Homo sapiens: one gene and its partners. The protein of the gene in region 3 binds, or shares a complex with, the protein of the main gene of each other region. Each region holds a gene or a part of one and is shown on either strand. Other genes may lie near its edges.

Region 1 (3,749 bases), on a different chromosome or scaffold from region 3:
CCCAAAGTGCTGGGATTACAGGAGTGAGCCACCACACCCGGCCTTTTTTTTTTTTTTTTTTTTTTGAGACGAAGTTTCGCTCTTGTAGCCCAGGTAGGAATGCAATGGCGCAGTCTTGGCTCACCACAACCTCCACCTCCTGGGTTGAAGCAATCCTCCCACCTCAGCCTCCCAGGTAGCTGGGATTACAGGCATTCACCACCACGCCCGGCTAATTTTGTATTTCTAGTAGAGACGGGTTTTCTCCATGTTGGTCAGGCTGGTCTCGATCTCCCAACCTCAGGTGATCCACCCGCCTCAACCTCCCAAAGTGCTGGGATTACACGCGTGAGCCACAGTGCCCGGCAATTTTTTTATTTTTTTTGTAGAGACAGGGCCTCAGTATGTTGCCCAGGCTGGTCGCGAACTCCTGGGCTCCAGGGATCCTCCAGCCGCAGCCTCCCAAAGCGCTGGGATTACAGGTGTGAGTCACTGCTCCCGGCCTCACCTTTCGACCTCTGCTCCAAAACACACTCTTTGTTTTTCTTGAGAAACCTGCTGATAAATATCTGTACTTCGATGCTCCAACACTTTTTGAGCGACTATTACGTGCCAGAAACTATACAAAAATAATCAGGCAAGGACTCTAATCTGCAAAGCTCAGAGGAAACTGGAGAAGATAAACAATAACACAGTTCACTGTATCAACAGAACTATGCCCAAAATGCTAAGGCAGCATCTTAGCCGGAGTGTGGAACTTTAGAAAATCTTAGTAAAGTTCCACAGAAAAGTTGTTTTTCTGCAGTTCGTAGTTCGGTCAATAAAAGAACGAAATTCAGCGCACTTTAAAAATACACAATGGCACAGGATCTGAACACTTGACATTGTAGAGAACTGCTGGCTGCTAATAAATATAAGGACCTAATCATTTCATTGATGCCAAAATAGTCTCCAGTACGTTTACACACAGCCCTAAATTTATTCAGGCGTCTCTTCTGGAACGAGATGTAAGCTGATTTTGTATTCATTTGCCCCGTCTCCCACCACTTTAGGCCAAAAGTGCCCTAGTCGAGCATGAAATCTTCACAGAAGTTGAGAGTCCCCATCGCCCTAAAGTCGAAGCTCTATAATCACCAAGGAGGGTATAGTGACAATCTAAAACTAATACACATTCCCTCTCCTGGACTCTATGCCCCTAAAGTGGCCCCCATGGGACATCTGCAAGAACCTCCTCTCACAAACTGGCTCCCCCAGTTGTGTCCCGCCCCCTCCTTTCCCCTACAGTCACTTACCCTCGGTTTCCCCCTGAGCTTTCATCCTGAAGGCGAGGAGAAGCTAGATCCGCCACAAAAGGATAAGCCCTTCCCCACCACTAACGGAGGAAACAAGTTGGCTCGGGATCCCGGGACGCAGGGCACCAGCAGTCCCTACTCTTCCCGGGAAGGATCAATCTGAAGTCCCCGGCGGCAAGAAGAGAAGGGTGCTCGAGGCCGCCGCCATCTTCCCCAACGGAACTTCCCAAAATTCGCGAGATAAACCGTGGTCCTGCCAGAGAGAGGAAGAGGACAGGGCATCGAAATCTCGCGAATATTGGTCAATGCGTCGGCCTCGCGAGATTTCTTTCAGCGCAGTCTTCCCTTTGATCTGAGCTGTCTCAGGCCTCGCGCCGCTGGATATTAAACCTGCCGGCCGGTAGCTTTCGGCTCCCCTGCGGAAACCGCCATTTTTTTTTTATTTTAGCAGTTAAACAGCTCGCAAATTAAAATCTCCAGATCCCTGTACTGAAAGACTAGCTTTTCTTTTTTTTTTAATTTTTTTTTTTTTTTTTTTGAGATGGAGTCTTGCTCTTGTCGCCCAGGCTGGAGTGCAATGGCACGATGTCGGCTCACTGCAACCTCCGCCTCCCGGGTTCAAGCGATTCTCCTGCCTCAGCCTCCCGAGTAGCTGGGATTACAGGCACCCGCCACCACGCCCAGCTATTTTTAGTAGAGACGGGGTTTCGCCGTGTTGGCCAGGCTGGTCTCGAACTCCTGACCTCGCTGTCCGCCCGCCTCGGCCTCCCAAAGTGCTGGGATTACAGGCATGAGCCACCACACCCGGCCATGACTAGATTTTCAAAGGCTATTGGTATCAGGAGTGTCTTATGAAAGATAAGTTTAACCTGAGATACTAGATGCAATAATTACATCCTAAGAAAGATAGTGGCGCATTGTAACATGACGTTCAAAGCGAGCCTATAGCACAGTTAATTCCCCTTTTCTCATTTTTTTAGTTTCAAAACTATTTCTGGCTAGGCGCAGTGGCTCATGCCTGTAATCCCAGCACTTTGGGAGGCCAAGGTAGGTGGATCATCAGGTCAGGAGTTTGAGACCAGCCTGGCTAACATGGTAAAACTCCGTCTCTACGAAAAATACAAAAATTAGCCAGGTGTGGTGGTGCGCTCCTGTAATCCCAGCTACTCGGGAGGCTGAAGCAGGAGAATCTCTGGAACCCGTGAAGCGAAAGTTGCAGTGAGCAGAGATCGCGTCACTGCACTCCAACCTGGGTGACAGAGTGAGACTGTCTCAAAAAGAAAAAACTGTATCCTTTACTATCCTCAAACTAAGTGTTCTTCACTTAGTAAGCATCTGTGGAGTCCTAATATGTGTATATTTGGAGCTGCTAATACAAACATGAAAACACGGCTGGTCGCGGAGCTACTCAGGAGGCTGAAGCAGGAGAAGCGCTTGAACCTGGGAGGCAGAGGTTGCAGTGAGCCGAGATCATGCTACTGCACTCCAGCCTGGGTGGCAGAGCAAGACTCTGTCTCAGACAAATAAACAAACATGAAAACACAACCCTAGCGCTTGATAGGCTAATCTTATTTAGAGTTCCGAAAATATGATTGGTCACTATAATCATAGGGGCTCAAAATTTTTTCATTAATTATTATGCCCTAAGTACCAATGCCAGATACCCAACTACACTTTATCATGGAAACTCTATACAAATAAAAAAAAAAGTCTGTACTAAGTGTTGCTAGGAAATTTTTAACTTTATAAAGCTTATAAATAAACTTTACTAACTTCTGGTTACAGAATGGAATGAGAAGTTATCATTTGTCATCTGAAAATGCAGATGAGAGACACCATTGGAAAAGTTCTACTCTAGAAGATAAGAGAGCAATGTCCTTTGGGAGGCTGAGGCAGGTACTTGAGATCAGGAGGTCGAGACCAGCCTGGCCAAAATGGTGAAACCCCATTTCTACTAAAAATACAAAAAATTAGCCGGGTGTGGTGACACATGCCTGTAATCCCAGCTACTGGGGAGGCTGAGGCAGGAGAATCGCTTCAATCCGGGAAGTGGAGGTTGCAGTGAGCCAAGATCGTGTCATCGCACTCCAGTCTGGGCAATAAGAGCAAGACGGAGTCTGAAAAAAAAAAAGAAAGCCATGTCATTAAACAAGAAAAGTATTCAAGGTACATATAGGAACAGTATACATAGGAAAATGGGTACAATGGGCAAATTGTAAGTGACTAAGCTTTGAAGGAGGCGCCAAAGGACTCTTTTTTTTTTTTTTTTTTTTTTTTTTTTTTTGAGACAGTGTCTCGCTCTGTCGCCAAGGCTGGAGTGCAGTGGCACAATCTCGGCTCACTGCAACCCCCGCCTCCTGGGTTCAAGCAATTCTTCTGCCTCAGCCTCCCAAGTAGCTGGGACTACAGGTGTATGCCACACCACCCAGCTAATTTTTTTGTATTTTAGTAGAGACAGAGTTTCACTATGTTGCCCAG
Region 2 (3,749 bases), on a different chromosome or scaffold from region 3:
ATCTATCCTCTCCTTTCCCTGATGGACATGCTGGCATCTCCACGCATCTGATATCACTCACGCTACCAGCAGATAAACTCCTAAGGGGATGGGTCCTAACATGTTTCTATCCGACCTGAGCACAGGCTTGGTCTTGCTGCTGCTGGGCATGTTGCTTGCAGTACTTCCAGAAGATGACCCTGTCTCTGCTGACTGTTGGAAAACCTCGATTGTGGCCTTGGCGATGTTCTCCAAGAGGGAGTTCATCTCCTGGGGAGGATGAAAGGCACAGAAGTGCTAAAATAGGTAGCTAAGGGTGAAGGAAAGCAGATGGTAGGAGAGATCGGAGATGACGGAGAAGGACAACACTGGCGGAGATTGATGGGGAGATAGGAACGCAACTCTGTTGGGAATCATGCCCTCTAGTACCTCCATATTTCTCCAATTCCTCACTGTCTTCTCCTTTACATACCTCCTTACATCTATGGCCAGAGAAACAGGCTCCACCACCACCACCAAGCTTCCCCACAGCTCAGAGCTCCAACACTCTCAACCCATTTCCCTTATCATCAGCTCCACTTGTTCACCATTTTCCCATCCCCTCTTATCTCTCAGCTCAAGAGCCCAAGGGTAGGATCTAGGTTCTTCTGTGGTGGACCGCCTCCCTGACACATGGAGCTGAACGTGAGCACAGGAAAGGGAGGGTCCAGGCACTACTCACATTGTTAGGGGTCTGCTTGATCATGAGCTGCAGCTCCAAGGAAGACTGGCGCATGGTCCACTGGTCCAAGTTCTGTGATAGAGGCCCCACACCCAGGCTAGTCATCATCGTGTTACCCCCAGCTACCCAACAATCTGAGGCCAATTCCTGATCTCCTGCAACATTGAATCACAGACTCCTGGAGGTCTGAAAGGGACCTCTATGTCCCCATCTTTAAGAAAGACTACATTTAGGGAGGCTGAGACAGGCGGATCACCTGAGGTCAGGAGTTCAAGACCAGCCTGGCCAACATGGCAAAACCCCATCTCTACTAAAAATACAAAAATTAGCTGGGCGTGGTGATGGGCGACCTGTAATCCCAGTTACTCAGGAGGCTGAGGCAGGAGAATTGTTTGAACTTGGGAGGCAGAGGTTGCAGTGAGCCGAGATCGCACCACTGTACTCCAGCCTGAGCGACAAGAGCGAGACTCCGTCTCAAAAAAAAAAAAAAAAAAAAGACTACATTTAAATAGTCCAAACTAGTTGAAAATCTTTCCAATTTTTAAAATAGTTCAGGAAAGATTTCACATCTTTCCCATCCCTTCGTATCAGGAAGTTCTGCTTAATGCTTAACCTTGAAACCCTTGATGTTAAAGTTGAAGCCTGCTTCTCTTGTTTTAGACCAGCTGCTCAAAGTCCCTGACAGAACCTTTATAAGACAATCTCTCAAAGTCCTGTAGAGACCAGAAGGCTACTGTTAGCTAATCTCTCTTCAACACTATCTCTTCTGGGCTGAAGAGACCTTATTCCTTTAGCTTTTCCTCAACGGCTTTATTTTTCCACTCTCTGGTCATCTGAAGGTGTGAAGCAATGTGAAGAGGAAAGTGCACAGACATGTCTGGGTTCACATATTGACTCTAAACTTATGGGCTATGTGACGTTAGACAAGTTACTTAACCTCTTCAAGCCTCAGTTTCCTCATCGGTCAAACAGGGAGGCTCACCTACTTCATAGGGTCATAAAGATTAAATGAGGAAATGTGTGCAGAGTGCCTAGCACAGTACCTGGCACAAAGCACATGCTCAGCAAGTAGTAGCTATTACTATTCAGTTCCTGAGCCATGGCCAAAATGCCAAATATACACGGCCCACACCTAGGCCTCCCAGATGCTATGCTTCCCATTGATAAGCTAGATTCACTCCAGATAGCTATGCCCTCACCTAATACTCTTACACTGGAGTCTAGACCCTACTGGACTTACTCCTCAGCCCATGCTGGAGCTGTTTCTCTCGCTACCTCTCCCCTCCCCTATATCCTTGTTTGTCTTCCTCTCTACTTAACTGCCCCTCTCCTTTTCTCAAGGTTCCTATTGTTTCTCCCCAGATTGGGCCCACTGCTTCCTCCACAGCCCCCACGGCCTTGGCCTACCTGGAGAATGCGCTTTATGCGCTGCCGCTGGGGGTTTTCCCCATCCTCATTGTCCAGCAGTCGATGTGGATAGCAAATGAGCTGCATGAGGCGCTGCGCCTGGGCACTACTCAACACTGGGTCTTGCAGGTCATTGCTGTCCTCACACAGAGACTTAAGGCAACGTTCTCCTACCCATTCCTGAGGAAGCTGACAATCAGGGACTGGGAACAACCAGTGAGGGGGTTAGGAATATGGGGGATGGGCTGGAGTTGTTAAGGAACACAATGTATAGTAGGGAGCTGGTGTGATCATGGGCTGGAAACAGAACTATATTACACAGAGGCATTTAGGAGGTGTGGGAGGAAGGTGAAACTGACCTGTTGGCAGATGCTGCGCAGCACGTACTTGGCATAGACATCCAGACTGGCTGTCTCCACAGAGATGTTGCGGCCACCCTGCCTCCGACCACCACTGCCACCTCCTCCCTCCTCCTCTGGAAGTTCTTCTGTTCCTCCTGTCACAGTGAAGCCTGAACCTTTCAGTTCCGCATCCCCTGTGGTTCACGGGTGGGAGATAGGGAGGGCAGAGTGAGATTGGAACACGTGTGGAGACCCACCCTGGGCCCACAGAGGTAGAAACACCCCAAATCCTGCCCTATGGGACAGAAATATACTTCTCTCCCTCCCCTCCTCCCCAAAGGTCAGAGAGACCACCTTCAGAAGGGAGAAAGACTGTCCCTTGTAGTTTAGCTGGCACTCCACCCTATACACACTTCTGGCACCACTCCCTTCCTACCCCCGTACCAAGTACAAACACAGCCTTGAGAACAGCAAACACGGCTCCATCCACGATGCGGTTCTGGGAGGCAGCCAGCAGGTGGCGGTCGCAGGAGGAGCGGATTCCTACTGTAGGCTTGTCTGGGGAAGGCGATGAAGTCAGGGGAAGCAAAAGTAGAATCCACGGAGGCAGGGGAACCACACTTTCTACTGTTGGCTGGTTCAGATCAGGGTCACTTACTTCCATCAGACTGGCAAGGATTGAGCTGCGGTGTCTTGAAAAGGTGAAGGAGGATGCGGCAGGTAAGCCGGGCCCCTGGCTCAGAGTCCTGTTCACTACAAGCTAAAAGGAAGACAAAACAGATCTGGAAGGGATGAAGTTAAACTGTATGTGGGTTTATGTGTGTGCGTGCCTGCATGCATGCAAGTGTATGGCAGGGGCATGGGAGAGAAGATGAGGTAAAGTGAAAGGAGAAAAAGCAAGATAATATTGAAAGCGAGGTAGAGCAGAGAACTGTTACGCAGTTGAAGGGTCAGAAATTGGAAAGGTCAGGGCTGCAAATCCAGGGCTAAAAAACAGGTTTCTTCTAGCCTTCAGCATACCAAAGGACTGGCCTTCTGAGGAAGGCCAGGGAGCCGCAGCAAGGTCTCCCACAGTGAACAATGAGAGGATGGCCGTCCAGTGTGTATTGAAATTTGAGGTCTAGAAATGCTAGGGGTTACAGATTGGTAGTTCACCAGCATTAAGGAGTGAAGGGATGGCAGCACAGCGAATCAGATCTTCCAGGAGCAAACACTGCCGAGCGATGAGGATGGCAACAAAAGTAGCCAGCGAGTCATGAAAAGATAGGTCACTGACCTGGAGGAAAAAACAGACAGACACC
Region 3 (3,533 bases):
TTGGTGCCATTCAATAGGAGGGAATCTTTTGGTGGAGTAAAGGACAATAGTCACCAAAAGATGCTCCAGGAATTTCAGAGAAGCACAGCTCAAACTCTACCCAATATGCCAGTTAATACTGACATTTCCAGTGGGAAGGGAAGAGGTGAGAAGATAACACCTGAGTGGGCTGATGAGCCGGAACAGTTTAAGTGGGGGAAAGGTCTGGCATTGCCTTAGAGCTGGTGACCAGACTCCCCTACTGCTATGTATTGTGGTCAGTGAGCTTTGTGGATACCATTCCTCACCTTGATGGAATGGTAACAGATGTGACATCTGGGACCACTTTTCCAGTCCTTTGCTGCCACAGCCTGGCAGAACTTTGTTTGGCACTGAACAAATGCCAAAGTACCAGTGTGTGACAGAACAGAAAAAAGGCAGCTGGAAGGTATGAGCAGGAGGGAAGTTTCAGGATTTTTAGATCAAAGCTAATTAAAGATACGGAAACTTTTTTATGGAGAACAAATTAGAACTGCCTTGCAGCACTCTTGAAACTGCCCCTCTGATCCCTATGTAGTGCTCTCATAAATTACTGTCAGACAACCCTGAGCCAGTGAACATCAATTTAAATAACTTTATTCAGAGGAATCCTTTGGTCCACTTCTGCTGACTCAACCCCTGCCCATGCCAACAAAGGAGTACTAAGAAAGGCAGGTTAGCCTGAATGTCTAAATTCAATTTGTTCAACTTTATAAAAGCAGGCAAAGCTACTGGGGGTTGCCCCCTCCCACCATCATTCTGGTCCACCATTTGGGCCACAGGCTTAGGGAAATGAAGGAAAGTCGTTTTCTTTGAAGGAAATCCTGGCCAAAGTCGAGAAAGTGGGCACCATTATGAGGTCAACTAAACCCTGATGGCAGTGTGAAGTGCAATTCCCTTCTCCCTCCAAAATAAGAAACATGAATCCAGGGGAAGGGGCTTTTTCGTGTGCTAAGGAAAAACCCTTTCCCACATAGTCCTGCCTGGCAGAGCCACTTCCTGAGAAAGCCTCGTGTGTATAAGGTGGGGTAAAGGATAGGGGACTTTATGACTATTTGACAGGTAAAAGCCAAGTTGGCTCCTTAGAGGATGGAAAGGAGAGCAGGCCCAAGCTTCACCAGAGCTGCAGGTGGGCATTTTTTTTTCCTTCCTGGCCCAGAAGCTTCTTCACCTTGCGCCTTAGAGGGATAGCCAGAATGAAACCCAGGCAGGAGGGCCTGCAAAAACAGTGTGCCTCTAAGAACACAGAGGTTGCTACAGTTTCTGGCAGCACAAAATAAGCATAGCCTTATTTGATCTTGTGTCCATCAGCTCACCATTGACGTGAGGCAGTATCAGATTAGGGTAAGTTCTGGATCAAGGACTGTGGAGGGTGGTGGGGAGAAGGATCTGTAGAAACTATCATTTATTGAATACCCATTATTTCATATACTGTACTAAGTGCTTTACATTCATTTCCTCATTTTAATCCTCACAACAACCCTATGAGGTAGGTATTATCACCATTTACAAATGAGAAACAGGCTCAGAAAAATTAGGTCACTTGTCCAAGGTCACACAGCTAGTCAGTGGTGGAAGTGGGATTTGTCTGCTGCTGAAAGCCCATGTTCTTTTTATTGTACCCATCTAGGTGAGCCTTGAGCAAAAGGTAATTTCACTGCCCAACTCTGCAAAGAGCACCAGGGAGTCGAGGTTGCCAGCCACACTCACCGCTGGTAGGGATGCATGGAAGCCGACTTGATGTTGGTTTTTATTCCACTTGGCATTTTCCCTGAAAGGAACATTAAAAAAGTCATCTTAAGCAAGGTAAGACTTTCATGACAAATCAGAAATGTGGTACCTCAGGTTCCCTCTGTCACTTCCTTTATCATCTCAGAACCTCTGCGGCATCTGACCCTGTTTGACAGAGGTCAGAAGTATGATTCTTCACCCAGCTGTCTCCCTGAAGGTGTCCAGGAGGAAAGAAGTGACATGGGAGAATAGTCTGTTCATCCACTCCTAGAACAGATAGCTAAACCTGTGTGACTCCCATTTAACGTCACAGGTAAAAGAGTACTATGTTCTCTCATTGTTTTTCTTTTTTTATATCATAATAAGTGCAGAATCTCTCTTTAATTGTCCCTTTTCCTAGACAGCTTGGAGGAAATAACTCTTCTAGCTGCCTGCATCTAGACTGTTCTAAAAATGAGTAGGAGAGAAGGCAGGAAGCCAAGAGCAAGAGAGGCAGGATACAGAGAAAAGAATACATGTAGGACTGGAAAACTGGCCTGCGTGTCAATTCCTGATGCACCTACCAAATGGTCTTAAGATCTGACTGCTGATTTCTCTACCTAACAAGAGACACTGACAACATATCTAATACCAGAATAAATGGGATAGAAGGATAGTTGACACAGAGATGTGAGATGCGGATGAGAAATTGGAGCAGTTTCTGTTACTCAAAGTTCTTCCTCACTCTCTGGTGCCTGTTGCAGAGTCTCAGATGAGATTTTTTTACTTCTGAAAATTATTTCCTGGGTCACAGTGAAAAGGAGAAATAGAGAAAACCTCTAGGTCTAGAGATGCTGGAGGCCCAGATAATCTAGCTTATTCCCTCCCACTCCTGCTCAAAGTCAGCTTCATTTCAACCCCTGCCACCTTACCTGGTTGACCTGCCTGAGCCATTTGTACCCCACTGAGCATTGGCTGCTGCTGGCTTGGAGCTCCTGCCATCTGCACCTGCTGTAATCCTGAGGTTCCTGCAAGGATCGTCCCAGCTCCTGGCTGGCCTGCCTGGCCAGGACCACTGCTGCCTGAAGGTCTCCAATTAGATAGTCCTTTCCCAAAGGCAACAGCTGCCACCAAGGCATTAGTGTCTGTAGGGTTAAAGGTCTGCTTGTTCGGCCGGAGACCTGAAGAAAAAGTAATGGGGATCCTGAAGTATGCTTCTGATGCAGGACTGAACGTGGCAGCTGGAAGACCAGTATGAGTGCCAGGGTTTGGAGTTCTGAATTCAGCAACATCTAGACTCCCTCACAGCCCAGAAAAAGAGCCAGAGGACCCCCAAGCCTATCTCAGAATTCTCTCTTCTTACTTTGCCCATTTCCTCCACTGCTTCAGTGCTGGCCTTAAATACAAAAGGCTAACAGAATGGATACAAACCCCAAAGCAGTTCACCCTTGTGTCCTAACTTCACTACTTCCAAAACAACCATTCCCATTCCAGTGATCTTATATACCTCTCCTTCTCTGTTTAGCCACCAGTCCCATCATACCTCCACTCTCTGATTCTCGCTCCTCTTTGCTGATTTTCTCCAGAAGGTTTGAACACATTTTATTCAAGCTCTGGATCTGCTTCTGTAACACACAAATTTGTGCAGAGATTAGGGTAACTAGGAAACGATATGGAGAAATTTATTCCTTGGGTTCTGCCAGAAGCAACTTAGGCGCAACCAACTATGTATCCCTACTAGACAGGAATGGTAATGCCTAGCTTCTCATGATGGGATGGGGATGGGGCAGCAAGGCAGTGACTCA

What was found.
Region 1: MED8 (region 3) and MED1 share a complex: the UniProt entries of both Homo sapiens proteins name them as parts of the mediator complex.
Region 2: MED8 (region 3) and MED12 share a complex: the UniProt entries of both Homo sapiens proteins name them as parts of the mediator complex.

The regions. Positions count from the first base shown.
Region 1 is NC_000017.11:39,449,767-39,453,515, forward strand, and holds the start of MED1 (mediator of RNA polymerase II transcription subunit 1), read right to left. Parts: upstream 1,498-3,749; 5' UTR 1,297-1,497; coding exon 1,272-1,296; intron 1-1,271. UniProt on the Homo sapiens protein: Component of the Mediator complex, a coactivator involved in the regulated transcription of nearly all RNA polymerase II-dependent genes.
Region 2 is NC_000023.11:71,128,573-71,132,321, reverse strand, and holds part of MED12 (mediator of RNA polymerase II transcription subunit 12), read right to left. Parts: intron 3,725-3,749; coding exon 3,604-3,724; intron 3,209-3,603; coding exon 3,107-3,208; intron 3,007-3,106; coding exon 2,893-3,006; intron 2,643-2,892; coding exon 2,467-2,642; intron 2,288-2,466; coding exon 2,108-2,287; intron 773-2,107; coding exon 701-772; intron 250-700; coding exon 116-249; intron 1-115. UniProt on the Homo sapiens protein: Component of the Mediator complex, a coactivator involved in the regulated transcription of nearly all RNA polymerase II-dependent genes.
Region 3 is NC_000001.11:43,383,318-43,386,850, forward strand, and holds the end of MED8 (mediator of RNA polymerase II transcription subunit 8), read right to left. Parts: intron 3,354-3,533; coding exon 3,272-3,353; intron 2,910-3,271; coding exon 2,661-2,909; intron 2,410-2,660; exon of another isoform or gene 1,967-2,409; intron 1,825-1,966; exon of another isoform or gene 1,790-1,824; coding exon 1,725-1,789; 3' UTR 1,236-1,724; coding exon of another isoform or gene 1,133-1,235; 3' UTR 600-1,132; downstream 1-599. UniProt on the Homo sapiens protein: Component of the Mediator complex, a coactivator involved in the regulated transcription of nearly all RNA polymerase II-dependent genes.